Regions from separate parts of the Homo sapiens genome. Here regions 2, 3, 4, 5, 6 and 7 are each linked to region 1. Evidence: fine-mapped expression QTL. A gene starts in region 1. Each other region holds a variant in brackets. All regions are shown on one strand. Distances are from middle to middle.

Region 1 (4,395 bases):
AATAGACAACAAAAATAATTCTCACCCAGGCAAGGAATAGAAATCCTCCATTCAGTCCATCCTAGGAAAGGCAGACTGAGGGAGAATAGGGCAAAGCCAGATGCAAAGAGCAAGCAGCAGGTAAGAGAAGAGAGTGAGCTTCCAACGGGAGAGCTACAGTACCAAGCACTTATTAGCTCATTAACTCACACAACCAGATTCCGAGGTGCATGCTATTAGAGCTTCAATCTATGGATAAGGAAGTGGTGTTTTAGAAAAGGTAGAAAACTTGGCCAAGGAGCTGGTAAGTGATGGAGGCAGAACTTGAATCCATGTATGACTGCTCCCACCAAGAGAGCAAAAAGTGCACAAGAACAAGCAGCTTGCTGGGCCCTGAAATAGGCCACTGGAGTCCCTGCAACATGGAAACCTTAACCCAGGAGGCATATTTAGTGAGTTACCCTGGTGAAGAAATGGATGGCTGACCCAACTAAATTTTTTTTTTTTAGACGGAGTCTTGCTCAGTCGCCCAGGCTGGAGTGCAGTGACACGATCTCGGCTCACTGCAGCCTCCGTCTCCCGGGTTCAAGCTGTTCTCCTCCTCAGCCTCCCAAGTAGCTGGGACTACAGGCACACACCACTACGCCCAGGTAATTTTTTTGTATTTTTGGTAGAGATGGGGTTTCACCATGTTGGCCAGGCTGGCATTGAACGCCTGACCTCAAGTGATTCGCCCACCTCAGCCTCCCAAAGTGCTGGGATTACAGGTGTGAGCCACCGCACCCGGCCCCAACTAATATTCTTACAGGTCCTTTGTCTGACAAGAAAATGACTGCATAGCAGAAAGTAAGAATATGCACACTCTTCTAGTACAGATCAAATCGCACATCCCTGAGGCCAGTTGAGAAATGGCCAAGCAAAGAATGACCCAATAAGGTAGAATATGATGTAACCAGGAAAAATGACAAGTATAGACTACATTAAAATCTGTATATAAATTAATATGGAGGGAGTTAACAGTGTACAAAGTAATATGCACATATTTACAATCACCAAAAAAGTAAAACTGGCAAATAAAGACAGAAAGACCCGTAACCAGGTGTGAAGAGATAGTGCTTTAAGTTCACAGGATTTTTTTTCCTATAAAGCAGTGGTACTCAACGTATGGTCCCCAGACCAACAGCAACTGCATCACTTGGGTGCATGTTAGAAACGCCAATTCTTGGTCCTCATACCAGACTTACAGAATCAGAAACTTTGGGGATGGGGTCCAGTACTGTGTGTTGTTACTAGCTCTCCAGGTGACTCTGGTGCATGCTAAAGTTTGAGAACCACTGTAGTAAGAAAATTATTTTATTTATTTTCCTTTTTTTCTTTTAATACAGACGGGAGTCTCACTATGTTGCCCAGCCTGGTGTTGAACTCCTGCCCTCAAGCAATCCTCCCATCTTGGCCTCCCAAAGTGCTGGGATTACAGGCATCAGCCACCACATCCAGCCCCAAGAAAATTATTAAATAAAACATATGAAGCCACAGATAAAGTCTAATTCACTTCAACTCTGCAAATATTTCTTGAGCACCTACTAAGTGCCAAGTATCATGGAGGTAAACAATAAATACTTGTTGAATGACTTTCTTGTTAGTAGAAAGTAAATGCCACTTAACCCTGGGAGAGGGCTGTTCTAGGTGTCTTATCTAAAGGTTGCTCTCCACACACACTGGCTGCTGTTAGCACATATCTACTGTGTGATCTGGAAGCCCAGGGCCCTGCAAGATGCTGGAGATAAGCAGCGGTCTGGGGCACGTTCGCAAGACCGGGTGGAGGGCCAGGATATGGGCATCGCCCCCTGCTCTTGCCCAGACCACGCTCCAGCTCCAGCTGCTTCTGCCTCGGAACTCACAGGGCCACCAGGGGGTGAAGGCGTCTGGGTGAGCCACCTCCGGCCCTCCTCCAGCTCTGCCCACTCGGGTGCCTGCAAGACTGTGCCACTGAAGTGGACAGGTCACATGAAAGCCCACTGGTGTGCCAAACTGGAGAAGTCACTGCAGGGGGGCGGGGCAATGCGAGTCACCCGAGCCACGTGGCCGCGCGCCGGGCCCAGGTGACAAGGTCATGGGGCTGTCCCTCCCGGCGCCCAGGGCGGCTGCACAACCGGAGCAGAGGCCGACTCCCGGCGTGTCCATGCCGGTTCCCTCGCGCTCCAGGCGCGGTGCGGCCCTGCCAGGCTGGTCGGCCCGAGCTCTGCGCCGGCCTCCGGCGAGCTGCCCCTACTCACCCCGAGGGAAGCAGAGCCGCGGCGCCCGGCTTCCGGCCGCAACCCGGTAGCGGGGAATTAGCTGGGAACCGTGCGGGGACAGCCACCTGACTGCGCTTAGTGAAGCCGAGGCGCGCGCGGCCTGCCGGGACTTGTAGTTCCTGGTTCCCCACGCCGCGATCCCGCGGGCAGTACTGTGGAGGCACAGGGGTCTCGGGCTTACTCCGTCAGGTGGCCTTGTTGCTTTGCCAGGGCGACGGACTTGGAATATTACTGAAATATTTTCTTCAAGACATTCTAACTACGTCCCAGGTTCGTGTTTAATGAAAGATGAAGTGGATTTGTAGATTTTTTTTTTTTGAGACTGAGTCTCGCTCTGTCGCCCAAGCAGTACAGCTAATTTTTGTATTTTTTTTAGAGATGGGGTTTCACCATGTTGGCCAAGCCGGTCTCAAACTCCTGACCTCAAATGATCCGCCCGCCCAAAGTGCTGGGATTACAAGAGTGAGCCACTGCGCCCGACCTCGTAGATTTTATTCATTCATTCATTCATTCATTCATTCATTTTGAGACAGAGTCTCACTCTGTCGCCCAAGCTGGAGTGCAGTGGCCCATCTCGCCTCACTGCAACCTCCGCCTCCCGGGTTCAAGTGATTCTCCTGCCTCAGCCTCCTGAGTAGCTGGGATTACAGGAGTGTGCTACCACGCCCTGCTAATTTTTTGTATTTTTAGGAGTGACGGGGTTTCGCCATTTTGCCCAGGCTGGTCTTGAACTCCTGAACTCAGGCAATCCACCCGCCTTGACTTCCCAAAGTGCTGGGATTACAAGCCTGAGCCACCTCACCGGGCCATAGATTTTAAATAAGATATTGGAACTAGTAGGCGAAGAAGAAATTTACTGACAATTGATGTATGCTGGCGGGGCGGTGGCTCACGCCTGTAATCCCAGCAGGCCAAGGCTAGCAGATCACCTGAGGTCGGGAGTTTGAGACCAACCTGACCAACATGGAGAAACCCCGTCCCTACTAATAATAGCAAAAATTAGCCAGGCCTAGTGGTGCATGCCTGTAATCCCAGCTACTCAGGAGGCTGAGGCACTAGAAACCCGGGAGGCAGAAGTTGCGGTGAGCCGAGGTCACGCCATTGCACTCCAGCCTAGGCAACAACAGCGAAACTCCGTCTCAAAAATAATAATAATAATGCTGGCTGGGCAGGACGCAGTAGCTCACACCTGTAATCCCAGCACTTTGGGAGGCTGAGGCGGGCAGATCACCTGAGGCTAGGGGTTGGAGACCAGCCAGGCCGACATAGTGAAACCCCATTTCTACTAAAAATAGAAAAATTAAGCCGGGTGCGGTGGCTCATTCCTGTAATCCCAGCACCTTGGGAGGCCAAGGTGGGCGGACCACTTGAGGCCGGGAATTTGAGACCAGCCTGGCCAACATAGTGAAATCTGTCTCTGCTAAAAATACAAAAATTAGCCTGGTGTGGTGGTGCACGTCTGGAATTTCAGCTACTCAGGAAGCTGAGGCAGGAGAATCGCTTGAACCCGGGAGGCGGAGGTTGCAGTGAGCTGAGATCACGCCACTGCACTCCAGCCTAGGCAACAGAGTGAGACTCTGTCTCCAAAAAGAAAAAAAAGAAAAAGAAAAATTAGCCCAGCATAGTGGCGGGCACCTGTTATCCCAACTACTCGGGAGGCTGAGGTGGGAGAATTGCTTGAACCCAGGAGGTGGAGGTTGCAGTGAGCTGAGATTGGGCCACTGCACTCCAGCCTGGGCAACAGAGCAAGACTCGTCTCAAAATAAATAAATAAATAAATATAATATGCTAGCTAATCTTAGTTATCTTTGGCCCTTATTCATTCATTCACTGATCTCCATTATCAAATGTTGACTTATAAGATGCACTTTGAAGACATGTATCAAAAACATTTCTCTTTTTTTTTTTGAGACAGGGTCTGGCTGTGTTGCCCAAGCTGGAGTGTAGAGGCTCCATCACTGTAGCCTCAACTTCCTGTCCTCAAGGTACCCTCCTGCCTCAGTCTGTGGAGTAGCTGGGACTACAAGCACATACTGCCACGCCTGGCTAAATTTTTTAAATTTTTTCTCAAGAAAAGCTGGGGGGTGTGGTCTCACTATATTGCCCAGGCTGGTCTCGA
Region 2 (4,395 bases), 70 kb before region 1:
AGTCTCAGTTTCTATGTCTGGAAGTGATGGGAAAGGGACGCCAATCTCTCTGAGCTGTTGTGAGGACTAGATGAGACCATGTGTTTGAAAACATCTAATTCATGCCCAGGACAGAGGAAATGCTAAATATTCAGTTCCTTGACCTGCGAGGTTTCCTCATCTGCCTGCCCTGCCTCCCACTTGGGAATGCTGACAGAAGGCGTAAGCTGCTAAGATGAGAAAACTTTGTGAAAAGCGCAGGACCCTTTGCAAAGAGCCATGGAATGCTGGGGTTAGAAAGCCTGGGTTCTGAAGCCAGACCTGACTCTGCTCACGCTCTCTGAGTGACTTAGGCATGAGACCTAACATCTCTGGCCTCAGTTTGCACCTCTGTGAAATAGGAATAATAAAAACAGTACTTACTCTCACAGAGCAGTTGTGAGGCTTCTTTGAGATGATGCTGGCCTAGCCCTGACAGTGCTCCACCTGCTCCCCTCAGACCTCCCCTTCAGCTCCTGCATGACCCCCAGGATTTGCATCTGTGCCAGAGACTCCCTGGGACTTCCAAGTCTCAGGAAGTATCAGCTCCCAGGAGCAGCTGTCAGTTAAAGAAGTTAGGGCCGGGCACTTTGGGAGGTCAAGATGGGCAGATCACCTGAGGCCAGGAGGTTGAGACCAGCCTGGCCAACATGGAGAAACCCTGTCTCTACTAAAAATACAAAAATTAGCCTGGCTTGGTGGCGCATGACTGTAATCCCAGCTACTTGGGAGGCTGAGGCGGGACAATCGCTTGAACCCGGGAGGCAAAGGTTGCCATGAGCAGAGATCATGCCACTACACTCCAGCCTGGGCAACTGAGTGAGACTCTGTCTCAAAAAAAAAAGAAGAAGTTAGGAAGTTGGTGTATGAATGAATATCCTACCTTGGCCCTTGGGTGGGATGGGTGAAAGGTACGTATTTGACACCATTTCCCAGTCTGCCCACAGGACTAACCTGATTTTGCCCACAGTAGCCACTGGTTTAAGAGCAGAGAGTTACCAGCTGCCTCCCCCTTCCTGAACCACATCCCCACTTCCCTACTGGCAACATCTGAGCATCCCACAACATCACTTTTACTCAAATTATTGTTTGTTTTTAGGAAAGCCCAAACTAAGACAAGCATGTATTCCTCACTCATTTGGCCATGTTGGCCAGTATGTTCATTGTACATCTGGGCAGGCCTGAGGCTCCTCCAAAAAGCCATCCCCTCTCCCAGGACTGCCACGAGGAAGAACAGACCTCTGGGTCACGAGGAGACAGGGAGAGGCATCAGAAGCCACTGCAATCACATCCACCCTGCCCATACTGACAGCCCCAGCCCTGAGTGGCCTGCAGGGGAGACCTGTTCCCCTTCTCCCTGGAGAAGAGAGGGAAGGCCACGAGTTCCAGTCAGGGAGGAAATGAGGACTCTGTGACCCCTGTGGCAGTCCTAGAAGGCATGGGGCCAACTGCCAGGGCAAGTCCTTCAAGAGCCATAACCATGGCATTTGTCCTCCAGGCTATGGCCTCCTGACTCACTGCCCAACCTGGGACACTCACGCTCTGAGCTCCAGGGGGATGTTGAGGGGAGAAAAAAATGGCACCTGCCCCAGCTTAGGGAGACAGCTAAAAAGGTTCCATAGGGAGAGCTCACCTTTGCAAGATATGGATGATGGAAAGAGCCTCCTCGCAGGGCCCCTCCTTTGGCTCCCTCCATCCGTCCTACACCATTAGCTCACTTTGCCTAAAATGTCTCTTTATCAGTCTTGGGCACACACAAGAACACACAGGCTATTAGCTGATTTGACTTTACTTCTAAGACCTGGGGCCTAAGAAGATACCCTAAAACTTGCCACAGCAAGACCCAATGCCTATGGCTCTCTTTAACGTCCCCCAGAAACCAGCCCTTCTGCAGGGCTAGGAGCTGCATAGCGGGAAGAGTGGAGATGTCATCAGAGCTCAAATCCTGGTTCTGCTTCTTACTGGCTACATGAACATAGCTGTTACCTTCTCAGGGCCTCTGCCTCCTCAGATGGAAAACCAGAATGGTAATCTACCAGCCTTACAGAGTTATTGTAAAGGTTACAAACAATATCTGTAACACATCCAGCCAATGCACACTACATAACAAGTACCAAATAAACACAACCATATGTTATTATCCACCAACACTAATACCTACCATCTTGTCTGCCTTTACCCATCTGTGTTGGTCCATTCTCACGTTTTTATAAATACCTGAGGCTGGGTAATTTATAAAGAAAAGTGGGGCTGGGTGGAGTGGACACTATTTAACCCGGTACAACATCTGACTTAGGCTAAGTCAATCAGAGTCCTGAAATTGGGGAGCAGGGTCAGGCCCTCTTAGGTGTGAAGCTGAGAAGAGGTGAGGCTAAAAGCTGTCAATGGCAGCTGGTCATGGAGGGAAGCAGCTGTGAATGAGGCTGACCCACAGACAGAAGTTGCTGGGAGAGATACAAGAGTCCCAGAAGACACCCCAAGGCCCAACTCTAGCCCAACCCTAACTACAATGTAACACATCTCCTTTTTTGCCTTAGCTAGTTCAAGTTGGAGTTAAGATCCTTACAACCACAGAAGACCTAATGCACCCATCTGTTGTGGGTTGAACTGTGC[T/C]CCATAAATATTCATATGTGGAAGTCCTAACCCCAGCCTAGAATGTGACCTTATTTGGAAATGAGGTCATTGCAGATATATTAATAATTAGTTAAGATGAGGTCATACTGGAATAGCACAATCATAATCCAACATGACTGTGTCCTTATAAAAAGGGGAAATTTGGACACAGAGCCAGACACCCACATAAAGAGGATACCATGTGAAGATGAAGGCAGAGATTGGGGAGATGCATCTCCAAACCAAGGAACAGCAGGGATTGCCAGCAAACCCCCCAGAAGCTAGGGCCGAGGCCTAGAACAGATCCTCCCTCGCGGCCTCAGAAGGAACCCACCCTGCTGATACCTTGATCTCAGACCTCTGGCCTCCAGAACTGTGAGACAATACATTTGTTGTTTAAGCCAGAGGTTTGCGGCTAGCCCGAGAAAACCAATACGCCATCCAACCAAAGCTCCCTGCCACTCCAGGCCAGCTTGTCGGCTCTCTGGGCATTGAATTACCTGTGGTCATTACTCACCACCAACTGCCAACCCTGTGTGCCCTCAGAATTCCCCTCCTCAAATCTTACCCACCCTTCAAGGACCAGTTCAAAGCCCAAACCCCCACCACCAGGAACCCGCCTCTGAACTTCCCCTGAACTTCCCAACCATCAGCCCCACAGCTGAGGGCTTAATTGTTCTCTAATTACTCCCTCTGTGCACGGTTCTGCCTGCTTGGCTTTGGAGGGAGGGGCACAGCTTTAACATTCTGTATATCCCCCGCTGCAGTGGCACATGGGTAAGAGAATAGCAGTTGCTCTACAAATCTGTATTCTCTAGGTAAGCAAACCAACAAGTGGTGGGTCCCAACCTTCCCGGGGTTAGTGAATGGGGCCACCATGGGTTGAGGCCTTTTATCTGCAGGAAGTGGGTATGGAACAATCCAGACACACCAGCCGATCAGAGGGCTTGGGCACGACCCTGAGCACTAGATCCCAACAAAGGGGAGGCACCCCACGTGCAGCCTGTGGACTGAGAGTGAACTGGTGAGCACATTAGTATAATCACCCCAAACCACTGGCAAGACAAAAGACTGGAAGAAGGACAAAAAGAACCATAGGATCCTGGACTTAGGAAAATATGGCTTCCTCAAAGTCCGCAGGAAACTACAAGGTCCCAAGGACAATGCAAGCTACGGAGGCCCACTGGGTGGCTCTGACAGCAAGCCCAGCCCGATTGCTCGATTGAGTGCTGCCCTCTCTTCCGGGCACTGAGCTTCCATCTGAAACAGAATAGTCCAGGAGAAAGAGCACTGGATCAGGAATCAGGAGACCTGGGTTCTAGTCCTGTTTCTACCACCAACCAGTTGTGTCATTAAGCAAGTGACTGCCCCTCTCTGAGCCTCAGTTTCCTCACCTGTGAAATGTGGGGGTCGCACTAAATGATTTATAAGCCCTCACAACCCATGAGTGATTCTCCCAGATAACTTTTGTCCAAAGCACTTGCCACTGAACAACAGAAGGTGAACAAACAGAGTCAGTATTTGTTAAACCTCAGGAAGATCGAGGCACCAGGCAAGGTGCTGGATACAAGATGAGGGTGCTGGTCTTAACTGCCAAATTTTGCTCTCGCAACAACTCGACACGTAACAAGCACAGCTGACAGTGAACTGGCATTTACCATTCACCAGGCAGTGCACTTTGGCTGGGCTATAGCATTCATTCCTCACCACAGCCCTATTCATGTGAAGGCTCTCTTATCATCCCTGTTTAAACATGAGGAAACC
Region 3 (4,395 bases), 64 kb after region 1:
CAGTGGTGTGATCTTGGCTCACTGTAACCTCTGCCTCCCAAGAGATTCTTCTGCCTCAGCCTCCTGAGTAGCTGGGATTACAGGTGCCCACCACCATACCTGGCTAATTTTTGTATTTTTTTTAGTAGAGACAGGGTTTCACCATGTTGGCCAGGCTGGTCTCGAACTCCTGAACTCAAATGATCCATCCTCCTCAGGTCCCAAAGTGCTGGGATTATAGGCGTGAGCCACTGTGCCCAGCCTATGCTATTTTCTTTTTTTTTTTTTTTTTTTGAGATGGAGTCTCACTCTGTCACCCAGGCTGGAATGCAGTGGCACAATCTTGGCTCACTGCAACCTCTGCCTCCTGGGTTCAAGCGATTCTCCTGCCTCAACCTCCTGAGTAGCTGGGATTACAGGCTTGCACCACCATGCTCAGCTAATTTTTGTATTTTTAGTAGAGACAGGGTTTCACCACGTTGGCCAAGGCTGGTCTCAAACTCCTGACCTCAGATGATCTGCCCACCTCGGCCTCCCAATGTGCTGGGATTACAGGCATGAGCCACCCGGCCTGGCCCTATGCTATTTTCAAATTATATTTTTTGTTTTTAGAAATTAACAGTTACTTGTGGTATATGACCTAAATCACAATTATTATTTATAGTTTTCCATTTATAAGTAATAGATATCTTTATAATACTTCTAAATTTTGAGGCGTTTTACTTGACTAAATCTGCATAGAGAATTGAATCACATACAGATATTGAGGAAAAATTCAGAGCTGGTAGGGCTGCTGTCATTATTCTTTTCTCTGTTTTATAACCTATGATTAATCAAAAACTGCTAACCGTAAGTTGCCTGCTGGGATTATTATGAGTGTTTTTTCCTCAGATGCAGGCATACTAAATAGGTACTATTTTCTAGACTGCTTATCTGTGAAACTGAACACGGCACCTTCCATGTTGGAAAACATATGAGGATGGGTTATTTGCAAACTAATACCACTCAAGTTTATATTTTGACTGTAACTCATAATTTATGTTCTTTTATCCCTCTTGCTGTCTGCTTTGTCTAAATATTTTGTTAATTTTCTGTTAATACTTTGCGAAAGGAATTGAAAATGTAGTCTAGCTTAAGATTGTAATAGAAGGAAAATACCTACTGAAAGCTTGAACTAATTACACCTTTAGTTTTTATCTGCTTTCTTCAGATACACACCATCTCAGCAAGGAGTGGCATTCAACTCTGGAGCTAAACAGAGGGTTATTCGGATGGTAGAAATGCAGAAAGATCCAATGGAGCCTCCAAGGTTCAAGTAAGTGAAAAGGAATAGGCTACTAATACACACAATAACATGGATGAATCTCAAAACAATATGCTGAGTGAAAGAAGCCAGGCAAAAACAAGTACATACAGTATGATTCCATTTATCTAAAACTCCAGGAAATGCAAACTAACCTATAGTTACAGAAAGTAGATAGGTGGTTGCCTCTGGGGAAGGAGGTAGGGACAGAGAGGAGATGGGAGGGACAAGAGGAATAGGCAAGGGGCAAGCAGAAACTTTTGGGGATGATAGACATGTTCACTATCTTGCTTGTGATGATGATTTCACAGGTGCATATTTGTGTCAAAATTTAATCAAATCGTATGCTTTAAATATGTATAGCTAATAAATGTCAATTATCTCAATAAAGCTGCCTTTTTTTGTTTTTGTTTTTGTTTTTGTTTTTGTTTTTT[G/TG]AGAGACAGTCTCGCTCTGTCACCCAGGCTGGAGTGCAGTGGCATGATCTCAGCTCACTGCAACCTCTGCCTCCTGGGTTCAAGCGATTCTCTTGTCTCAGCCTCCTGAGTAGCTGGGTTTACAGGCGTGTACCACAATGCCCAGCTAAGTTTTTGTATTTTTAGTAGAGACAGGGTTTCACCATGTTAGCCAGGATGGTCTCGATCTCCTGACGTCAGGCGATCTGCCCACCTTGGCCTCCCAAAGTGCTGGGATTACAGGCATGAGCCACTGCACCCGACCTAAAGCTGCTTTTTAAAGTGGAAAAAAGTATATTACTCTGCAAAATGACAATAATGTTGTGGAGGTGGGGTGAGTAACAGTTTCAAAGTTGGCCATGTTTTATTCATTGTCAAAGTGGAGTGGTAAATGTATATCATTATACAGTCTCTGTTTTTGTCTATGTTTGAAACTTTTATGCAAGAAAAAGGAGGAGAGACTTGATATGATGACTAAAAGGGAGGAAACTATATCACTCTCTGGTTGTGTTTTTATACTTCAGGATTAATAAGAAAATTCCCCGGGGACCACCTTCTCCTCCTGCGCCTGTCATGCATTCTCCTAGCCGAAAGGTATTCTTTGCTGTAGTCCAAAATATTTTTTTCTACTCATGGTTATTAATTTTATAGATAACCTCCCTATGCCTATACAGGTGCATGTCACCACACTGACTTGTAGTTTCTTTTTTTATTTTTCAAGATGAAGTTTCAAGAATGCTTATGAGAATGTATATAACATGTTAGCTGTAAGTTTTGTTATTAGTAATGCAAACCCTACTTTTAATGGAATGGACAGGGTCTGCTGTTTCAGTTTAAGGATGTTATAGGAAGTGAATATATGGGTTCATTAGGTCCCTGGTAATTTGACTTTTTAAGATATGTTTTGTTAATCAAAAGAACAATTTTTCATCCAAAAGAAGTCACATCGGCCGGGCGTGGTGGCTCACGCCTGTAATCCCAGCACTTTGGGAGGCCGAGGCGGGCAGATCACCTGAAGTCGGGAGTTCAAGACCGGCCTGACCAACATGGAGAAACCCCGTCTTTACTTTAAAAAAAATTAGCTGGGCATGGTGGCGCATGCCTATAATCCCAGCTACTTGGGAGGCTGAGGCAGGAGAATCACTTGAACCCAGGAGGCGGAGGTTGTGGTGAGCCAAGATTGCACCATTGCACTCCATCCTGGGCAACAAAAGCGAAACCCCGTCTCAATAAAAAAAAGAAAAAAGTCACATCACTTTAAATATGGAAAAATACTAGCCAACATTTATAACTGTCAAGAATAATTTCTAGATTATTTTCCATTTTTCACACTAGTTCAAAGTTATTACTAGAATTATATGGTAAACTAGTGCTAGCAAACAAATGGACTGCTGGCCTTTTACTACGGCTGTGCATATGTCAGTGTATATGGAGCTGTCTTTGAAGATAAAGATTATACTTAGATTTACTTTGTAGACTATAAATCTAAACTTGTCTCTTCTTTCCCTCTTCTCTCAGATGACTGTAAAGGAACAACAAGAGTGGAAGATTCCTCCTTGTATTTCTAACTGGAAAAATGCAAAGGTAATTAAGTTGTCAAATCAGTCTCTATTAGTATAACCTACTGGAAAACACCAGTAAAACAACTACAGCCTGCATAACTGTAGTTGAAACAACACGTGGTTTAACTGAGCATTTTCAAAAAGGAATGCCCAATTTGGTGACTTTTTTAATGTAATAGAAATGTTAGTATGCCAGGCACGTGAATACCGTGTCAGTTCCTTTTTTTTTTTTGAGACGGAGTCTCGCTCTGTCACTAGGCTGGAGTACGGTGGCATGATCTCAGCTCACTGCAGCCTCCACCTCCCAGGTTGAAGCGATTGCCCTGCCTCAGCCTCCTGAGTAGCTGGGACTACAGGCGCATGCCACCACGTCCGGCTAATTTTTCGTATTTTAGTAGAAACGGGGTTTCACCCTGTTGGCCAGGTTGGTCTTGATCTCCCGACCTTGTGATCCGCCGGCCTCGGCCACCCAAAGGGCTTAGATTGCAGGTGTGAGCCACCGCACCCGGCCCCATATCAGTTCTTTTAGTGAATTGTAGCTAGCAGAAGCACATAGAGAAGGAATAAGTAGAATAAAGTGTCATATAAATACAAGATGGTATTTAGAAAACTCAAATTTATATCTAAAAATTATTTCTAAAAGAAAGTAAACTGATGTAAAAGATTATATGACAAAAGAACAGAGTAAATGCTTGGATACTTTAAGTGCTTTAATATTCAACTACTGGGCTCTGTAGTAGTGAAGGCTTAAGCTATATATCTCTAATAATTGCCAAAGTTTCTAGGAGTTGTTAAGAATCTGTAGATTGTGGGATAGATTTGCTAGTTACTGTTTCATCTTCCCTGAATCATAGTTCATGATTTTATTTTTGATGGATAAAGAAGACCATTTCAGGTTTCTTAAGAGAATTTATATACTCACCCTAAACAAAGAGGTTGCCGACTGGTCTGATTTGAGTTGATTGGTATTTTGTAACTGGATGGTATCTTGAGCTGGTTCTATAATGCTTCATTTTATTATGAGACCATGGACTAAAAGTCAACATTTGAGAGACTAGTCAGATATCTGGAAAATAAAGCTAAGCCTGAAAGTTACATA
Region 4 (4,395 bases), 92 kb before region 1:
AAAATGAACGTTCAACAAGGATCGAAAATCAGTTCAGAGTGATGTACATAGCTTGCCATTCACGGGGTTTATCTTTGTTCTGATAAGTTATTAAAGTACACGCTTTTTAGAAAACAGATTTATAGGGTGAAGAGAAGTTTCCTTGGGTGGCCCACATCTCTGGATATTTTTTAATATATATTTTAAAAAATAAAATCGCTGTTGGATTCTGTGCCGACATAAACATTGCCTAGCCACCCACTGTTCAAACAACACATTTAGTAAAGAAACAAGATGAGGCTGGACGCGGTGGCTCACGCCTGTAATCCCAGCACTTTGGGAGGCCGAGGCAGACAGATCACCTGAGGTCAGGGTTTAAGACCAGCCTGGCCAACAAGGCAAAACCCCGTCTCTACTAAAAATACAAAAATTAGCCAGGCGTGGTGGCAGATACCTGTAATCCCAGCTACTTGGGAGGCTGAGGTAGGAGAATCACTCGAACCCAGGCAGTGGAGGTTGCAGTGAGCCAAGGTCGCACCACTGCACTCCAGCTTGGGCAACAGAGTGAGACTCTGTCAAAAAAAAAAAAAAAAGGAAGGAAGGAAGGGAAGAAACAAGATGGTAGACAGAATGCACTGAAAATGCTGCTCAGAAAAGGTCAAAAACATGACTGCCATGGGTTTTCACTTTTTGAGACCCTTGGGATGGGCCAGATGACATCAAGCAATAGATCAGATTTAGTGCTCAGGCCAAAGAGTCCCACCCCAACATAGCCGAGCACCTTGGGGCCCAGTAGTGCATGAAGGGCATAGTACTTGGCAATGAGTTAGATTCCTTAGGGTGAGAGGGCAAGGGAGTGTTCCTCATCAATTCAGAAGCTGGAGAAATAACTGGGAGTGATACAGGGTGATTAGGACCTGGAGATTATGGTAGTCCCCCAGCTCAGGGATCATCTGAGTCCTACCCTGCCCTCAAGCAGTGAGAATGGCAGTGAGATATGGCCCGCTAAGCTCCCCAATATTGTGGGTAGAAAAGAACTGCTGCAAAGCCAGCCCGCCAGCAGACGGATGGACTATGCTTCATCAGTTCACCCCCTCCTGCTGAATCATTGTTCCAATCTCTGGGCCCAATTAGTCTGGCTCTGGACAGCCATTCAAATCAATAAGAGTCACTGGCCGTGCATCTAGAAGTAGAGTTGCCCCAACTATTAAAGGGACAATATCAGGTGATAATGACAAAGCTGAAAAAACATCCCTGGCTCTGCCTTTTTCTTTTGTGCAAAGTCATCGACACCATCAGATTCACTGAACACCATTTACTGAGAATCAGCCTCCCTTCCCTGCCATCCTTCAACAGTCTATCCTAGAGGCTCTCTCCCCTCTCCAAGGGAGAAGGTTCACAGGAGACACAAAACTGCCAGGTTCAGAGTAGACACAAAACTCTAGGGTAGTACATGCTATTGGAGGCCAAACCAACAGCCATCTCCCCCATCATCCTGGCTAACACAACCCCAAGTTTGTACATCCTTCATGTCCTTCAAGGATAGCAGGTCTGAGAAGGTGAGTCATGATTGGTTTAAGCCAATCAAGGTGGTCTCAGTTTTCTTGCCAAGACTGATTTGGGAGTGGGCATTACTTCTGGACAATAACAAATGAAGGGAACTCTGCTAGGGATCTCTTTTTTTTTTTTTTTCTGATAAAGAATATGAGGATGTCCCCTACTTGTAACACCAGGAACTGTTGCAGCTGTGTTGGGACTACGTGCGGTGCTCGCTCAGGAGGGCGAGCCAGGAAGCTGAGATAGCAGAGTGAAACATGGAAAGAGTCTGAGTCATTACAAACAATGAGGTGCTGGGCTGTCAGCCTTGGAACAGCTGACCCAAGTTCCAGACATCTTCACATGTGAGATAATAAGGGTTAGTATTAGCTATACCACTTTCAGTTGGATTTTCTGATTCTTAGAGCCAACTGAAAGCATCCCACCTGACACAACCAGTAGTCACCACCCCCTTGCTCTCAAAAGTCTCACCCCTGTAGACCTCTATCACCCTGTAAATGCACAGTAGTTATGAGTTTGGGTGTAGAAGGTCACCTCTTAAGATGCAAATATAAAGAGGTTAAGCCTATCAGTCACTCTCTTTACTGTGAACTGCTTTCATCAGATTGCTTTCCTCTTAAGACCAGGCTGTGATCAATTATGGGGCAGAGGAGAGTGTACAACAGTGGGAGAGAAGCATAAGGGCACACCACACCTGGAGTTGGCATGAAAGGAGACGTAGAGGCTATGCAGAAAAGTAGCTTTTCCTCCTCTCTGTCCCTAAGTTTCTGGTAGCCCTAAATGTCCCCTAGAAATCACTCTTCAAGCCAAAAATGCTTAATACCTTTC[T/C]TGGATTGTCATTCCTAAATATAAGACACCATTTAGGTCTCAACACAGAAAAACAAAATATTCACTTCAAGTACGAGCTTTCCAGTTGGGCCCTTCTTGGTTTTGTACCAGAGAAAGACCCAGGCAGGACTTTTCCCACCAGAGACGAAGCCCAGTGAGATGGCAGTGTTACCCAGTGCTGCTGCTAATCCTGATGATCCATGGGGTGGTGGCCTCAGGCCTCCATTCCAGCTGTTCTCCTGAAGGGTATGAGTGCGGGTCTCAGGTTTGCCTTGTGGTCCCAGCCCCAGAACTGCCTCAGCCACTACTAAGGAGCCACTCTGTACTCTGCACACAGCCTGCCAGGCTGTGCTTCCCAAGAAAAGCATGTGATGCTTATCTCAGGGAGGAAGATGCCAAATCTTTATTACTGCTATTATTGCTCTGACCTTACAGCAACCATTACTTAGGGAGCCAGCAAGAAAACGCAAAGAAAAAGCGACAGCTGTCCTCACTGTCCAAGTGGGCCCTGATGGCTTTACTACGCAGAGGCAGCTTCCTGCCTGACTCAGGAGTGGCTTCTGGGATTCAGGAAACCCTGGGATCCTCCAAGTCTCCCAGGTCTCTCCCAGCTATGGCTGCTCCACAGCTGCTGACAGGTGTGCTAGAAAAATCAGGTTTGTAGGCGGATGCTCAGGGCCACCCAGCAATCCTGCTCTCCTGCCCTGGTCAGCTCCCTTCCACTGCACACAGTAGCTGTTCCAAACCTTCACCCACCTCGAGTCTCCAATGCTACCTTCTACCCCCTCATTCTCAGCAGATGGTCTTGCCTCCCACTTCAGAGAAAAAATAGAGGCTATCAGGCTGCTACACACTCTGCTGCCCACTTTCCCTCCCCCTCTCCTCTGCCCCACACACTCATCTGTACCCAGCCTTCCCACCTTCCACTGGGCTCGAAACAAAGGCTAAGGTTTCCACCTGTGTTCTTCATTCCCAGTCGCTTGAATCTCCCTTAGGACTTGATCTAGCAATTACTTCTCTCTGCTGAATCCCCAACCTGCCCCCTTCCCCATCAGCTACGATTCCACTGAAGTCTCCTCAGTATTTAATCCTATGCTCTGCTCTGACCACTACCCTAACTCTCCCAAACCTTCCACAGCTAAATATCTGAAAACAGTACATTCTCCATGAAGAGTCTCCACTTTCTTGAGTCTCAATTCTTTTTCACCCCGATCAGGCCACTGTAGCTGCTCTTTCTAACCACCCTAAATCGCCAGATCCAAAATACCCTTTCCAGTGCTTTACTGATTTGATCTCCCATATGACAACGTTGAGGAATTCTGGCAGACTATGTTTTCCAAAACGGCTGCAACAGTACCTCCCATTCTAATTCACTTCTAGAACCTTGCCACTCTCCCATTAAGAGGTAGAGTCTATTTCCCCAACCCTGAACTTAACTAAGGGGGCCTTTGTGACTGCTTCATCCAAAAGAGTAAGAAAGAAGTAATCCTATGTAGTTTCCAAGGCTGAGTCATAAAACTGTGATGTACTTTCAGCCTTATTCTCTTGGGCCACTTGCTCTTAGAACCCAGCCGCCATGCTGTGAGGAAGACCAAGCAGCCATGTAGAGGCTGATATGGAGAGGAACTAAGGCCCTGGCCCACAGCCCCAGTTAAGCTCCCAGACAACAGCTAGCACCAACTTGCCAGCCAGGAAATGAGCCACTCCAGCCCCCAGTCAAGCTACTCCAGCTAGAGCTGCATAAAACAGATGAGTTTCTCTACCAAGCCCCGGCCAAACTGCGAATTCATGAGCAAAACACATGACTGTTGTTTTAAGCTCACTGTGTTTTGAGGTGACTCATTATGCAGCATTAGATAACTAATATAGTGCTTTCATCTTTAACTTTTCTCCACTGAATATAGCAGCATTGCTCAATCCTGGTTTTCCTCCAATCTCTCTGACCATGCTTTCTTAGTCCCATTCATGAACTTATCCTCTTGGGCTCACCCCCCAATGTTTTGCACAGTTTTTTTTCCTTGCCTTCTTTCT
Region 5 (4,395 bases), 100 kb before region 1:
TCCTTGATTTAAAAAAAAGGGGGTATTTGCATAGTGCTACTCTTCTTCCACTTCTCTTCTTGCCTCGAAAGTGAATGTGAATGTGACTGTTGGTGCTGTAGCAGCCATCTTGCAACAATGAGGAAAAATAAAAAAATTTAAAAATCTGAGAAGCCAGCTCTGGTACTGTTAAACCACCAAAACCATATGTCAGTAGGCAACCACTGCAAACCTTCTTGCTATGTGAAGACAACAAATTCTTTTGTTTAAGGCACTCTAAATGAGGCTTTCAGTTGCCTACAGACAAATGCATTACTAACATACACTCTCCAACCCTCTCTGACTCTCATAACACTCAAAAACCAAAAAGAGAACAGATTTCTCCAGGAGCGGGCAAGAGACTAGAATGCAACCAGGCTGCCATGTGAGCAAGGGACACCCACCAGTACCCCCACAGCCAGGAGGGAGGGGTTACTGGGCTTCCAGCATGCCGAGTTTCCCCCAAATTGTGAGGAGTTTATTTCCTCTTACAAATAAAGAAACATGGGCAGCTTTTTCAAATGTTTTGGAGAGTAAGATTTTCCTTTACCCTGACCACCCAAATTCATCTAGCAATAACATAGTGGCCCTCAAGTCAACAGACCTATTTCCTGTTCCTAATTCTGCTAATACTGTTGTGTCTTAGACTAGCCACTTAACTTCTTTACATCCCAGTCTTCCTCACTGGAAAGCAGAATTGTTTCTGCCCTATCTCAGTAAGGACCTCTGAGGATAAATGGGGGCTGTACATACAAGTGAAATGCTCTAGTTGGAACAAAGTTTCCACCAGAAAGCAAGGTGTTATTTTGGTTTGCTGCTTGACTGCGGTTTCTGCCATTTGAAAATCTGGGCCAATAGAGAAATCTGTGAAACTGATACTTTGAACTTAAAATTTAGACTTGCTTGGCATTTTTCAAAAAGTTTCTTTTTAAAAAAGTGAGTGCATGTTTGCTATTGTTGCTTTGTCGGTTTCTTTAGAGACAGGGTCTCATTCTGTCACCCAGGCTGGAATGCTGTGGCATCATCATAGCGCACTGCAGCCTCGAACTCCTGGACTCAAGAGATCCTCCTGCCTCAGCCTCTCAAAGTGCTGGGATTACAGGCGTGAGCCACCGTGCCCTGCCTGTTGTTTTTGTTCATGGCTTCCAAATGAATGGGACATATTTTCGGGTTAAATTCTTCCCTTGGGTTTGTTTGTAAACCTACCTTTGACAGTGGGCCCCTAAGGCTCTGGAGACAAGAGGTCAAATCTCTAGCCAGCCCCACCAGAGGCAGCTTAAAAAACAGCGAGGGGCTGGGCGCAGTGGCTCACGCCTGTAATCCCAGCACTTTGAGAGGCCAAGGAGGGCAGATCACTGAGGCTGAGGAAAGAGAATCGCTAGAACCTGGGAGACGGAGGTTGCAGTGGGTGAAGAATACGCCACTGTACTCCAGCCACGGTGACAGAGGGAGTGAGATTCCATCTCAAAAAAAAAAAAAAAAAAAACCAGCTAGGAAAGAGTCACAGGTGGAAACAGAAATCCCACAGGCTGGAGCTTCTCTGTGCTTGTGCATCAGGGTCCTGGGTGTACTGCGGTTTCCCCCTTTTTGGTCTCCCTGCAAACATCACCATTCCAGTCTAACCACAGAATGTGCCCCTTGCTTCTGCTGCTTAAATCTGAAATGACTAAAATATCAAACCTGGGAAACAGTGGAATTTGTCATGGGAGCTTCAGAACCACAGGTGCCCCTGGACAGACATAACATGGAAATGACTGCAAAATGCCAAACTGCTCCTGCTCAGTTAAAAAAGTGAGCTGCGCCTAAATCACCAGATGGGCAGGAGGACCTGGGGGTGTGGGGTGAAGTGAGCGCCCACATTTCCTGTCCTATGCTTCTTCCATCAAAGAAGGAAAAAATGAAAAAGAGAAATTTGAAAGAGTCAATAAGCACCCCGCACTCCCCCATCCCACCCCCAAACAAAGCAAGCTGAAACTCTAAGGAGCTCATGGCCAGGGTGCTCAGCGGCCCCACCAGCAGGGTCACACCCTGACCATTAGGACCCCTGGGTCCAGGTTCTACCTCTTTGCCACAGAGCAGAGGCCTCCCTCCTGTGGGCTCCTCCTGCCTCCCACACGGATGCCAATCTGGACCCCAAGAAGGAGGGCACCAATTAGAGAAGTTTTAGCCCAAGACCCTGGGCCTCAGCCTCACAGTCTGGCCCTGACC[T/G]CACATTTCTGCTTTGTTTCTATGCTTTGGTCAACATGCCCACGAAACAGGCTGCGCCTGGCTTGTCTGAGACAGTGCCCATCACCCTAGGCCCACAGTCCTCCTGGAGCCTGAGTCCAGCACAGCAGAAGGCCTGGAGACATGCAGTCAGACCGGCAGATTTGGAGTCAGGCTGCTGGCTGGAGCCCCGGCTCTGCCACCTAAAAGCTGTGTGACTGTGGGTAAGTTATATAACCTCTCTGAACACCAGTTTCTCCACCAAAAATATGGTGATAATGGTTACAGTGGAAGCACAACCCCACCTCCGCCCCCATTTCCCACTACTATGAGCAGAGTACTGGCACTCAACATGGAACCAGACACTAGCAGCTGCTGGAAAAAACATCGATTGCTCTTAGGACAGCCACATCGAGTTTCACAGAGGGCTCTGATACACACCAGGGCTGAGAGTTATGCTCTAGACGGTTCACTGGAATTCACAACTTCCCCACAGAGCAAAACCATATGGAGGGTGAACATGCAGGCTCTGGAGCAGGCTACCTCTATTCCCTCCCCTTAGTGGTAAGCCTTGTGACCCTGCCCAAAGGGTTGATAGCTCTGAGCCTCAGTCTCCCAACTGATGATATGGGGGTGATTATGGCACCTCCCTTGTGAGGCTGTTGTAAGAATTAAAGAATTAAAGAATATAAATCACTCTGCAAAAAAGAAGTTATATATTAATTACTATCCATCTGTAGTTCCTAATCTTTGAGATTCATGGGAAGTTATCATACTTCCCAAAAAGCATGCACATCTCCTCAGGGTTTGTCCACAATTTCTAGAGTCCTGGGCTCCTTACCTCACACTAAGGAACCCTGGCATGGCCCTGCACACCTATCCCCACCTCCACACATACAGAAATGGTCTCATCACTTCCAGTCCCAAACCCTGTGGTTATAAAGCTTCTCCCCTGCCACCTTGTCCCCAGGTGAGTCACAAACCCTACCACTTGTCCTGTTTCCATCCCCTGGCACATACGCTCTGCTGCCAGATCCACTAAGCCTGGCCTTAATCATTCAGCCTAGCTGCCCCCTCACCCTCTCCCAGTCCCCCTGACGCCATATTTGCATTCAGTGCTTGTCTGAGCCTGGGAGATTTATAGCACAGGGCTGAGGTTCTTAAACCGCACATAAGCACCGGAAGATGCCTCACACACTGAGAGGTAAAGTCTTTGCGGAGGCTTAATTATGCACAGATGTTGTGATCGGGAGCCAGTGTGCAAAAGCAGTCTATCTCCAGTTTTAAGAGCTGAACTGGGTTCACAGTGCAAAATTCACTTCCCCCTTGTTATGTGTTTAGGCAAAATTAATTACTCAAGAGCCTTAATTCCACCACTGTCTTAGGAAGGGTGTGCAAGTTTTGGAAACAGCAGGTCAAATTGGTATATTCATTATTTACCCATTTGGCATCTTCATTTGAAAAATGTGTGTTATTGTTATTATTGCATGTCTTGGTCTGGCACTTGCCAGTTGGCCCCAGCCAGGGGACAATTTTGCTGTTTCCATGGGAACAGTAGAGGAGATGGTTCTGTCTGGCTCATAGTTCTGGCTCTGAGGGGCACCCCTGCCGGTAAATGGCAGCAGAGTATCCTGAGAGGAGCACCACACTTGAAGTCAGAAAATCTGGGATGTTGCCCTAGCTCCTCTACTCAAACTGTCCTCTGCAATATGGGCTGATGCCTGCTGGAAGGACTCAACACCATAGTACCTGCAGACTGTTCAATGCAGCAGCTCCTGATGAAGAAGAAATAATCAATATATATTGCCTATAGTCAATACTTCTTAGAAGCACTCACCAGAGCCCTTTATCCTGGGTAGAATTACGTACTTCCTCTTGGGAATCCACAGAAACACAGATGAATGCCTGTCATGGTGCTAACAAACCTGCACTGCAACAACACATTGCTGTGTCTGTCCCTCCACTAGATGAGAAGTTTTCCAGAGCAGGGACAAACCTCAGCTCCCAGCACAGCAACAAGCTTGGGAATAAAAGAAATGGAATAAGCAAGTAGAAGCATGTATTAGACTCTATAGCATTATGCTAATTAGTTAACATTATCACTTGTCTCAAAGAGCCAAGTTTTCACTGAACTGGTGGTTTGAGCTCCAAGGCTGGGGCAGTGACACCAGA
Region 6 (4,395 bases), 110 kb before region 1:
AAGGAACATCACAGAGAGGCATGGCATGGGGTATTTAATGAGTCTCTCTGGCCAGAGAGCCTCCTCAAGTCTCTGGCCAGAGACATTCATTAAAGTTACCCAGATACCAGAGCAGGTGGGAGGGGTCCTAGGGACCTTGGCTATGGGAAGACACAGAGAAAGGGAGGAAAAGCAGAGACATCTGGCATCTCTGGCCTTGGACAACAACTCAGTCCAAAGAAATACTTTCCTATCTTTCCACCTTACCTGGGTCAATATGAAAAATGGGGAAAGGGTTTCTTCCCTACATGTTTCCCCCCATCTTTTGGCACATAATGTACTACGAGCACCACATGACACCACAAAATTCCAAGGGGTGGAATTCAGCATAATTCAACATGTGATGAGGACATATGCTGGGCCTGGCACCGTACCAAGCGTTCTGTTTCAGTCATCAAACGATCCAGTGGGTTACTCTCTTGTATCCCACTTTACAAAAGGTAACTGGGGCTTCAAAAGGGTGAGTAGCTTCACCAAGGTGGCACAGCTTATAAGCAGCAGAGCCAACACCTGAATCCAGGAAGGCCAACTCCACAACAACACAGTTACTCACTCCTGACACCTTTGCTGTGGAGGAAATAAATTTCCAGGAACTCATCTCATACACCTGGACCCCTCTAACATCCCTGAGCTCTTTTAAAGATTTGGTCCTTTTGTCCTTGTGATAGTTTGCTGAGAATGTTGGTTTCCAGTTTCATCCATGTCCCTACAAAGGACGTGAACTCATCATTTTTTATGGCTGCATAGTATTCCATGGTGTATATGTGCCACATTTTCTTAATCCAGTCTATCATTGTTGGACATTTGGCTTGGTTCCAAGTCTTTGCTATTGTGAATAGTGCCACAATAAACATACGTGTGCATGTGTCTTTATAGCAGCATAATTTATCACTCATAGTTGGGAATTGAACAATGAGAACACATGAACACAGGAAGGGGAACATCACACTCTGGGGCCTGTTGTAGGCTGGGGGTAGGGGGGAGGGGGGAGGGATAGCATTAGGAGATATACCTAATGTTAAATAACGAGTCAATGGGTGCAGCACACCAACATGGCACATGTATACATATGTAACTAACCTGCACGTTGTGCACATGTACCCTAAAACTTAAAGTATTAAAAAAAAAAAAAAGATTTGGTCCAAGAAGCAATGAAGGGATGGACAATGGAAGAAGATGTTTTCTTCTGGTGATTTTGGTAGAAGGTCTTCATGCCTCCGCAGCTGCTCTATGTTGGTCTGGGCATCTTCTACCAGACAGCCAGACAGGCCCAGCAGGGGAAAAATGACACTGAGCCAAAATGCAAATGTCCTATTCAACTGGAGGTGGTGACAAGGGGAAAGGTAGAAACTTCAGCATGGCTTTTACAGTGGGGGTAAGGGGGTACCATATGCTTAATAGATGACTATTACCCAACTCCAAGTCTTTATACTCAGAAAATAGAGGTAAGTGGGCAGGAAGGGGAGCAAAGAGGATTCTCGAAGATTCTATGGAGGAAGACATGCCTCTGTGAACCATGAACGCATGAATTATAAGTAACAGTAACATTGTTTTTACAAAACTTCACAGTTTGCAAAATTCACACAATGACCCTATGCAGTAAGTGATGTTATCTCTCCAACTGCATAGATGAGAAAACTCACACTCAGAGGATGTTGCTTACCCAAGGGCACCAGCCAATACACAATCTCAGGGGCCCTAACTTTGAAACCCTCTGCTCTTCCCACCCAGGACCCAACCTCTATAAAGCCTCACCCAGCCCCACCCTCTCCCACACTCTGCTCACACCTCTATTGTAGCAAGTGCACTCAGTGCTTGCACATGGTAGCTGCTCGAGAAATCATTTGCTGAAAGCAAATGTGAGACCTTTTCGCTGCTCCTGCAATGACACAGAATGGAATTAAGAACTACTAGAAGAAGCATAGCAAGGGCTTCTGGCTAAGCATGGCAGGTGGAACCCAGGCCACGGACTCTACTCCTTCACGAACCCCACTAAAGTGACTCTAAAAGTAGTAAAGAAGGCAAAGACCCCACCACAACAAGAAAAGAATAGAGAGGCAACAACAGAAGGCAAAGTGAGATAAGCAAAATTGTGTTTGCTGCAGGGAGCTACTGAGAAGTGACTCAGCAGGCTAGAAAACATGGACCCCTAAGCTGGCAACAGGAGAGCTTTATAATTATTACTGCTGAGCCTCAAGCAGGCTCAGAAACTGAGGGACTCCAGCACCTCTGAAAATGAGATTTGGGGGTTCTGAAAAAGAAAGATTAA[C/T]TGAAAGACTTTAAAAGTACCAGCTAAACCCCTAGATCCCCACCCGACCCTGACAGAAGATGGAGACTGATGCTCTGGGAACAGACAGGCTCTGCAGGCTGCACCACACACCAGCAGCACCACCCCAAGGACAGGGGACTGAACCTAAGTCCACATAATGACCACTGAGGAGCTCTGGCACTCTCGCCTCCTGGATCCCACGTCTCTGGGACAGCCAGGCTGGTGTCCCTTCTAAAACCCCATCCCAGGACTACCCCCAATCTTCACGGACAGCAGTGTCTGCCCACCAGACCTCCAGTCATCTGTCCCTGCTGCCCCTACACTCCTGTCTCTGTCACCTCTTTCTTGGCTAATTTCACACAAATTACATTGAACCTCAGCCTCGGCAGGATCTTAAACACAGACTCACTGAAATCCAATTAACCTTCGATAAAGGTCCAGCAATCAATAGTTGTTCTGTGGCTTGGGGAGGCGCCACCCAGCCCGGGAAAGAGGACTCCTGCACGACCTTTACTTTTAATGAGATCAATGACAGTCATTGTCGCCAGCTCTTAAAGTGACTGGCAAATATGATCACCAGGTCAGGCCCTTGGTAATATCTGCTTCTGGGCTCACAGACACAAACAAATGAGGGCCCCTGCAGGCTGCTGGCTCCCGAGGCCCGTGCTTGCTGGCAGGTGGGCACCCCTGGGCAGGGCTGTCTCGGGCCTGGAGGTGCAGATCAGCAGGGTGAGCGCAGATGGCACTTCTGGCAAGGCCTGAGCCCCTGGCTTCATGTTTCAGTATGGGGAGTCCTGAACTTCAGTGAGTGTCTGAACCGCCTGGACAGTCTGTTGAAATGCAGATTCTTGCAAACTTCTACAATCCTTTCCACCCCGGATTTGGATTAGTGAGTTTGGAGTAGGGCCCAGGAATCTGCATTGTTAAATAAGCTCCCCTGGTGATTCCTTTTTTTCCCCTATAGTGATTCTAAAAGAGATGGTTGGTGAACAAGTCTTAGCTCCCACCAAGCTGAAGAATCAATGTTCTTGGTTAGAGCCTAGCTAGTTCCACACCTTCAATAAGCATACTGAGGACCAGAGAGAGGATGTGATTTGCCTAAGGTTATACAGCAAGCTACCAGCAGGACAGAGATTGAACCTATCCCTCTTGCCTGCTAAACTGTTGTTTCCCTATCCAAGTCTATTGGGCCGAGTGGGACTGGGATGCTGTAGGGTGAGGAGGCCTCTTCAAAGCGGAGTGAGGCTGATACAACAAGTGGTTGGGGGCTCTGGAGCCATCCCCACCCACCTCAAGAGGGGTCCCTTCTACAGCCATCTTCCAGGATAGACATCTGCTTATAGCAGCTAAGATGCCACTAATCACACTACACCCTAGGATTCAGAGTAAGACTTTCGCCCCTGTCACTCCTATCTAGCCCTTGTACCTCCCTCCCCAAGGAATGCTCACAGCCAGGCTGCCCTCAGGAGGGAGTCACTCCAGGGCTGGCTCGCTGAGTACCACAGTCCTAAGGAGACTTTAGAACCTCAGGAGTCTATCTGAAACTTTCAGGATTGTGGACTCTTTCATTACACACACACACACACACACACACACACACACACACACACACACGCTCCTCCGTAGTCTTCAAGGCCGTGGCTTTGATGTTAGTTGGTAAGAGACATGATAGATTAATTTATTCAGAGTAAGGCCTGTCCCTAATCTACTCCCAACACTACTGATGGTAAGTGACAGTACTTAGAGCACCATAGTGGCCCATAGCCCACTGTGGGGGTTTCTGCGGAAGTATTTAATAACATCATCTCAGACTGCCAAAGAGCTACCAAGTCATGCAAAGCCTAAAAGCCAGGGACTGGGGATTAAGAAATTAACATAGTGTGGCATTACAAGGATAGACCAATGAAACAAAATAGATTCCAGAAGAGCCCCACATTGATGACAAAGACGTCAGATCCCAAAACTGTATGATTCCATTTATGTGAAGTTCAATAATGGGTGCAGGTCATCTATGGTGGCAGAACTCAAAAGAGCATTAGCTCCGGGAGGGACGTGAGAGAGCTCGCCAGGGAGCTAGAAATGACTTG
Region 7 (4,395 bases), 110 kb after region 1:
TGTGGAAAAGCTACATTAGAACCAACTTCCGCCCTCCAGTCTTCCATTAGTGACCCTTATAGGCACAGGTTAGCAGACAGCCAGCTGGCAAATAAGAAATGTAGCTGGCAGGGTCTCAGCCCCATATTATGAAGCTAAGTATAGAAGAGTGGATTTGAAACTGAGAGAAAATAGACCAATAATGAGCACGCCATTCATTAGACGATGACTTTCAAATCTATGTTTTAGCTAAAATTCATTATAAGATTTCGTGTAATCATGCCTGTAATAAATGAAATAGGGAGGTAAAGAAGTCTCGGATGACTCTAAGTGTCAAGACCTGATAAAAATTAGAGGTGTACTTTTACCACTTCCAATTCTAAAGTTTGCTTTGGGATAACAGTTGTTGTGGAATATTTATTTCTCTTGAGAATACCCAGAAAGCCAGACACATTTGCATAGGGGTAGATGTCTAATGTTCATCAAAACCTACCTGTTCATTAACTTGAAGCATGACCAAAAAAATATGGGGAGTAAATAACAAAATAGTGAGTATAAAGATGTCAAAATTATTTGAATAACTGATGGAGAATTTCCCCCTCTTCTTTTTTTCCCACCCATCTTTTGTATAGGGTTTATTTTTATCCCAAACCCCTTCCTCCCAGGTTACCAGTGGCACTGGGTGAAACAGTGCCTTAAGTTATATTCCCAGAAACCTAATGTATGTAACCTGGACAAACACATGTCTAAAGAAGAGACCCAAGATCTGTGGGAACAGAGCAAAGAGTTCCTGAGGTAAGTCTTGTCAATCAGAATGAAGTGTTAATACTCAGCTCAGATCATCACAGGTCTTTGAAGGAACTGTTCTATAACAATGCAGTAAAAGTGACTGGCTGGGTTTTTTTTTCCCTTCATTGTTTCCAAGCAAAAACAGCACAATTGTATTCTTTCCCCAGGAACATTTGGACAGATGCTTTGACAGTTATAGTAAATTGAGATCCATTTTAAAGACTTGCTTATCATAGCTTAGATAATTGAGTTCATCCTCATTAATCATCACATGATCCATTTCCATTAGCTTCAGCCATTTTTTTCTACTTAAAGTGAGTTCCTTTGAAGGCTTTTGGTATCCTAGGAAAGGTAACATCGAAAGCTCTTTGCTTCTACCCTCCTAGATGGATTCAGTGGTACTAGCCGTTTTATGATAGGTCAGTTGTTCCTGATGAGAATAACTAATATTTTCACCTTCATGCTTCAACATTCATTCATTCATTCCACAAATACTTAATGAGGGTCAGTAGTGTGTCAGGCATGATGCTAGGCGTTGGACACAGAAAGATAAAGGCACCCTCCCTGCACTCAGTAGTGCATAGTCTCTGGCAAGAATGCATTACCTATGAGAATAATTACTGTAGAGCTCAGAAAGTGTTATGATGCGGTTTAGAAAAATACTGTGGGAGCATAGAGGAGGAAATAATTATTCCAGGCAGGGTAGAAGTGTGAACGAAGAAAAAATGATTTTTTGTTTGTTTGTTTTTTGTTTTTTGAGACAGAGTCTCACTCTGTCACCCAGGCTGGAGTGCAGTGGCGCGATCTCAGCTCACTGCAACCTCTGCCTCCTGGATTAAAACGATTCTCCTGCCTCAGTCTCCTGAGTAGCTGGGATTACAGGCATCCACCACCACGCCCCACCAATTTTTGTATTTTTAGTAGAGATGGGGTTTCGCCATGTTGGCCAGGCTGGTCTCAATTCCTGACCTCAAGTGATCCCCCTGCCTCAGATTCCCAAAGTGCTGAGACTACAGGCGTGAGCCACCAAGCCCGGCCTGAAAAAATGATTTTTTTATTGGGTTATCCTCCTTTCACTGTCCATTTGAACTAATCTTCAAAAATGAGTAGGGGTTTACCAGTCAGAAAAGTAAAAAGTCTCTACTGAGTAGAGAAAGCAGCCTGAGCAAAGATACAATATTTAAGACAGAATAAATCGTCCTGCGAGACAAGAGCATAGGATGTGTACTTTCTTACGTTTATTCAGTTGTTATCTATTGAGTTTCTGCTATGTGTCAGACACTGTGCTTTAGTGTTAGAGATTCAAAGGCAGATAAAAAACAGTTCCTGTCTTCAAGAAATTTGTACTTTAGTTATGTTCAAAAACCTACAAACAGATAATTAGATACAATTTGGGTCTGGGCTTGGTGGCTCATGCCTGTAATCTCAACACTTTGGGAGGCCAAGGTGAGAAGAACACTTGAGGCCTGGAGTTACCAGCCTGGGCAACATAGCAAGACCCCATCTCTATGAAAAAAAATTTTTTTTTTTTTTTTTT[G/TG]AGACGGAGTTTCGCTCTTGTTGCCCAGGCTGGAGTGCAATGGCATGATCTTGGCCCACTGCAACCTCCACCTCCCGGGTTCAAGCAATTCTCCTGCCTCAGCCTCCAGAGTAGCTGGGATTACAGGCAAGCGCCACCACACCCGGCTAATTTTGTATTTTTAGTAGAGGTAGGGGTTTCTCCATGTTGTTCAGGCTGGTCTTGAACTCCCGACCTCAGGTGATCTGCCCACCTCGGCCTCCCAAAGTGCTGGGATTACAGGTGTAAGGCACTTCCCGGCCCCAAAAAAATTTTTTTTTTTAATTAGCTGGGCATAGTGGTGTGTGCCTGTAGTCCTAGCTACTCGGCAGGCTGAGGAGAGACTGTCTCTAAAAATAAATAAATTAAATAAATAAATAAATAAATAAATACAATTTGGTAGGTGCAGGGACAGACATTATAAGATATAATGGGAATGGTCACTTAAGTAGCTAGGCTGGAGGTAGATTATAGAAAATGCTTCCTGGAAGCCATGAGTAGGTGGAATTGGTAAAACATGAAGGAGGAGAGGTGGATTTGGGCCAGATGGTAAAGGTTTTAGTGATGTAGAGCAGGGGGGTCCCCAATCATGGGGCAGCAGACCTAGACAGCCAAGCATTACCACCTGAGCTTCGCCCCCTGTCAGATCAGCAGCAGCATTAGATTCTCATAGGAGCGCGAACCCTGTTGTGAACTGTACATGCAAGGGATCTAGGTTGCGCACTCCTTATTGAGAATCTAATGCCTGTTCATCTGAGATGGAACAGTTTTCATCCCCAAACCACCCCCCATCCCCACTCCATCCATGGACAAATTCTCTTCCATGAAACTGGTCCCCAGTGCCAAAAAGGTTGGGAACCACTAATGTAGAGCACTAGTTCTGGAGTCAGACTGACTGTGTTCAGATCCCAGCTCCACCACTTAATAGCTGTGTAACCTTGAGCAAGTTCCTTCACCTTTCTGTGTCTCATAACAGTTCTTTCCTTATTGAATAGTATGAGGATTAAACAAGATAATACGTGAGAAGTCCTTTAAAGTGCCTGTTAAAACCATTTTACCAACTTTGTGTCCCGTTTGGTGTTACGTGGCCTTAATTTTGTAGTTTTCAGAAACTGTCATGCCGATTCTAACAGAGTAAAGAGAAGATTTTCTTAAGGGGAAAGGAAAAGTAAAATTCAGTGGTTTTTTTTAAACCTTGGTCTATAGGTTATGGTATCAACAGGAGCAGTGAGGAAAATCCTGTCCATGAGCTTTTAGTAGTGTCTTCTTCGCAACTGAGAGCAGGGGAAAGGAAGATCGTGGTTAAGTAAAATTAGTCCAAGAGAACCTACTGCTATTAAACCAGCCTGTGTTTTCAAGTAATTTTTTTTCCTTCTGATATATGACTCTGCAGAAATCCCAGCTGTCTTTTAAGATAGCTCAGATGAATCTCTGTAATAAATCATCCTGTAAACAATGGTGAGATACCTTTTTTTTGGTCTAATAAATTAGCAGAAATAAAAAATTTGATGGTCGTACCTTATGTTGTCAAGGGTTGGAAGAAATTGATATGCTCAAGACATTGTACTGGCAGCACTGAAAATCGATTAAGGCCAAGTTTTCATTGTATCACTATGTGATACGTGCTTCAGTTTCCTCATGTAAGAAATGAAGGTATTGGACTGGATAAGCCATTCAAGGTAATTGAATCATGGGCAGTCAGGGTCATGTGGACAGTACCTGGCAGCTCTCCCAACTTTGCCAGAGTCTCTCAGAACAGGAGAGAGTCTGTTGAGTTCAAAACAGTTCCCCTGGAGATTTTGATTAGGTATCATAACATCCTCTGACATTGAGAACCACTGAAGTAAAGGACCTCTAAGATCCTTTTGGTTTTAATTTTCTAGAATTCTATAGTCAGGGAAGAAAAAACTTTAAATAGGAAATGAAGAAGAAATACTTGAACTTAAGCAAAAACAAAAATTATTTAAAAAAAAATACTTGAACTTAAGGACTGTTCAAAAAATTAGAGTACCTCAATTCTGTTCTTTTTTTTCCAAAGTGAATGGCGTAGCTAGAGATTGTTGTAAAAGTGT

Alleles and levels. Positions count from the first base shown, and alleles are read on the strand shown. Sizes are in standard deviations (SD) of each study's normalised expression. Not every link is listed here.
As copies of T replace C in region 2, the expression in naive CD4 T cells of the gene that starts at base 2,317 in region 1 goes down (large effect, 0.86 SD a copy in Schmiedel 2018).
As copies of TG replace G in region 3, the expression in macrophages of the gene that starts at base 2,317 in region 1 goes down (small effect, 0.36 SD a copy in Nedelec 2016).
For the expression in B cells of the gene that starts at base 2,317 in region 1, allele T in region 4 goes with a lower level than allele C (large effect, 0.83 SD a copy in Schmiedel 2018).

What was found. PIP is the estimated chance that this variant, and not a neighbour inherited with it, causes the effect.
Region 2: its variant is the best candidate, but not a certain one, in a credible set for the expression of ADCK1 in naive CD4 T cells (Schmiedel 2018, PIP 0.89).
Region 3: its variant is the best candidate, but not a certain one, in a credible set for the expression of ADCK1 in macrophages (Nedelec 2016, PIP 0.59).
Region 4: its variant is the best candidate, but not a certain one, in a credible set for the expression of ADCK1 in B cells (Schmiedel 2018, PIP 0.58).
Region 5: its variant is the best candidate, but not a certain one, in a credible set for the expression of ADCK1 in cerebellum (GTEx, PIP 0.63).
Region 6: its variant is the best candidate, but not a certain one, in a credible set for the expression of ADCK1 in whole blood (TOPMed, PIP 0.80).
Region 7: its variant is the best candidate, but not a certain one, in a credible set for the expression of ADCK1 in lymphoblastoid cells (GEUVADIS, PIP 0.66).

The regions. Positions count from the first base shown.
Region 1 is chr14:77,798,031-77,802,425 of GRCh38, reverse strand. ADCK1 (aarF domain containing kinase 1) reads right to left here and starts at 2,317. Exons shown (of 11, transcript NM_020421.4): 1 at 2,256-2,317. RefSeq lists enhancers at 1-320, 1,702-1,781, 1,792-1,841, 1,915-2,453, 2,454-2,992 and a silencer at 2,032-2,391.
Region 2 is chr14:77,867,833-77,872,227 of GRCh38, reverse strand. All of the region lies in intron 4 of ADCK1 (aarF domain containing kinase 1), which reads right to left. Among named protein-coding and RNA genes, the nearest start is that of ADCK1, 70 kb to the right of the region's middle. The variant T/C (reference allele first, on the strand shown) is at 2,632.
Region 3 is chr14:77,733,870-77,738,264 of GRCh38, reverse strand. SNW1 (SNW domain containing 1) reads left to right here. Exons shown (of 14, transcript NM_012245.3): 6 at 1,190-1,294; 7 at 2,259-2,328; 8 at 3,253-3,318. Among named protein-coding and RNA genes, the nearest start is that of SLIRP-OT1, 25 kb to the left of the region's middle. The variant G/TG (reference allele first, on the strand shown) is at 1,717.
Region 4 is chr14:77,889,915-77,894,309 of GRCh38, reverse strand. All of the region lies in intron 5 of ADCK1 (aarF domain containing kinase 1), which reads right to left. Among named protein-coding and RNA genes, the nearest start is that of ADCK1, 92 kb to the right of the region's middle. The variant T/C (reference allele first, on the strand shown) is at 2,365.
Region 5 is chr14:77,902,414-77,906,808 of GRCh38, reverse strand. The region is part of intron 6 of ADCK1 (aarF domain containing kinase 1); the gene reads right to left. Among named protein-coding and RNA genes, the nearest start is that of ADCK1, 100 kb to the right of the region's middle. The variant T/G (reference allele first, on the strand shown) is at 2,227.
Region 6 is chr14:77,911,961-77,916,355 of GRCh38, reverse strand. All of the region lies in intron 7 of ADCK1 (aarF domain containing kinase 1), which reads right to left. Among named protein-coding and RNA genes, the nearest start is that of ADCK1, 110 kb to the right of the region's middle. RefSeq lists an enhancer at 2,989-3,504. The variant C/T (reference allele first, on the strand shown) is at 2,309.
Region 7 is chr14:77,691,117-77,695,511 of GRCh38, reverse strand. ALKBH1 (alkB homolog 1, histone H2A dioxygenase) reads left to right here. Exons shown (of 6, transcript NM_006020.3): 3 at 612-774. Among named protein-coding and RNA genes, the nearest start is that of ALKBH1, 15 kb to the left of the region's middle. The variant G/TG (reference allele first, on the strand shown) is at 2,306.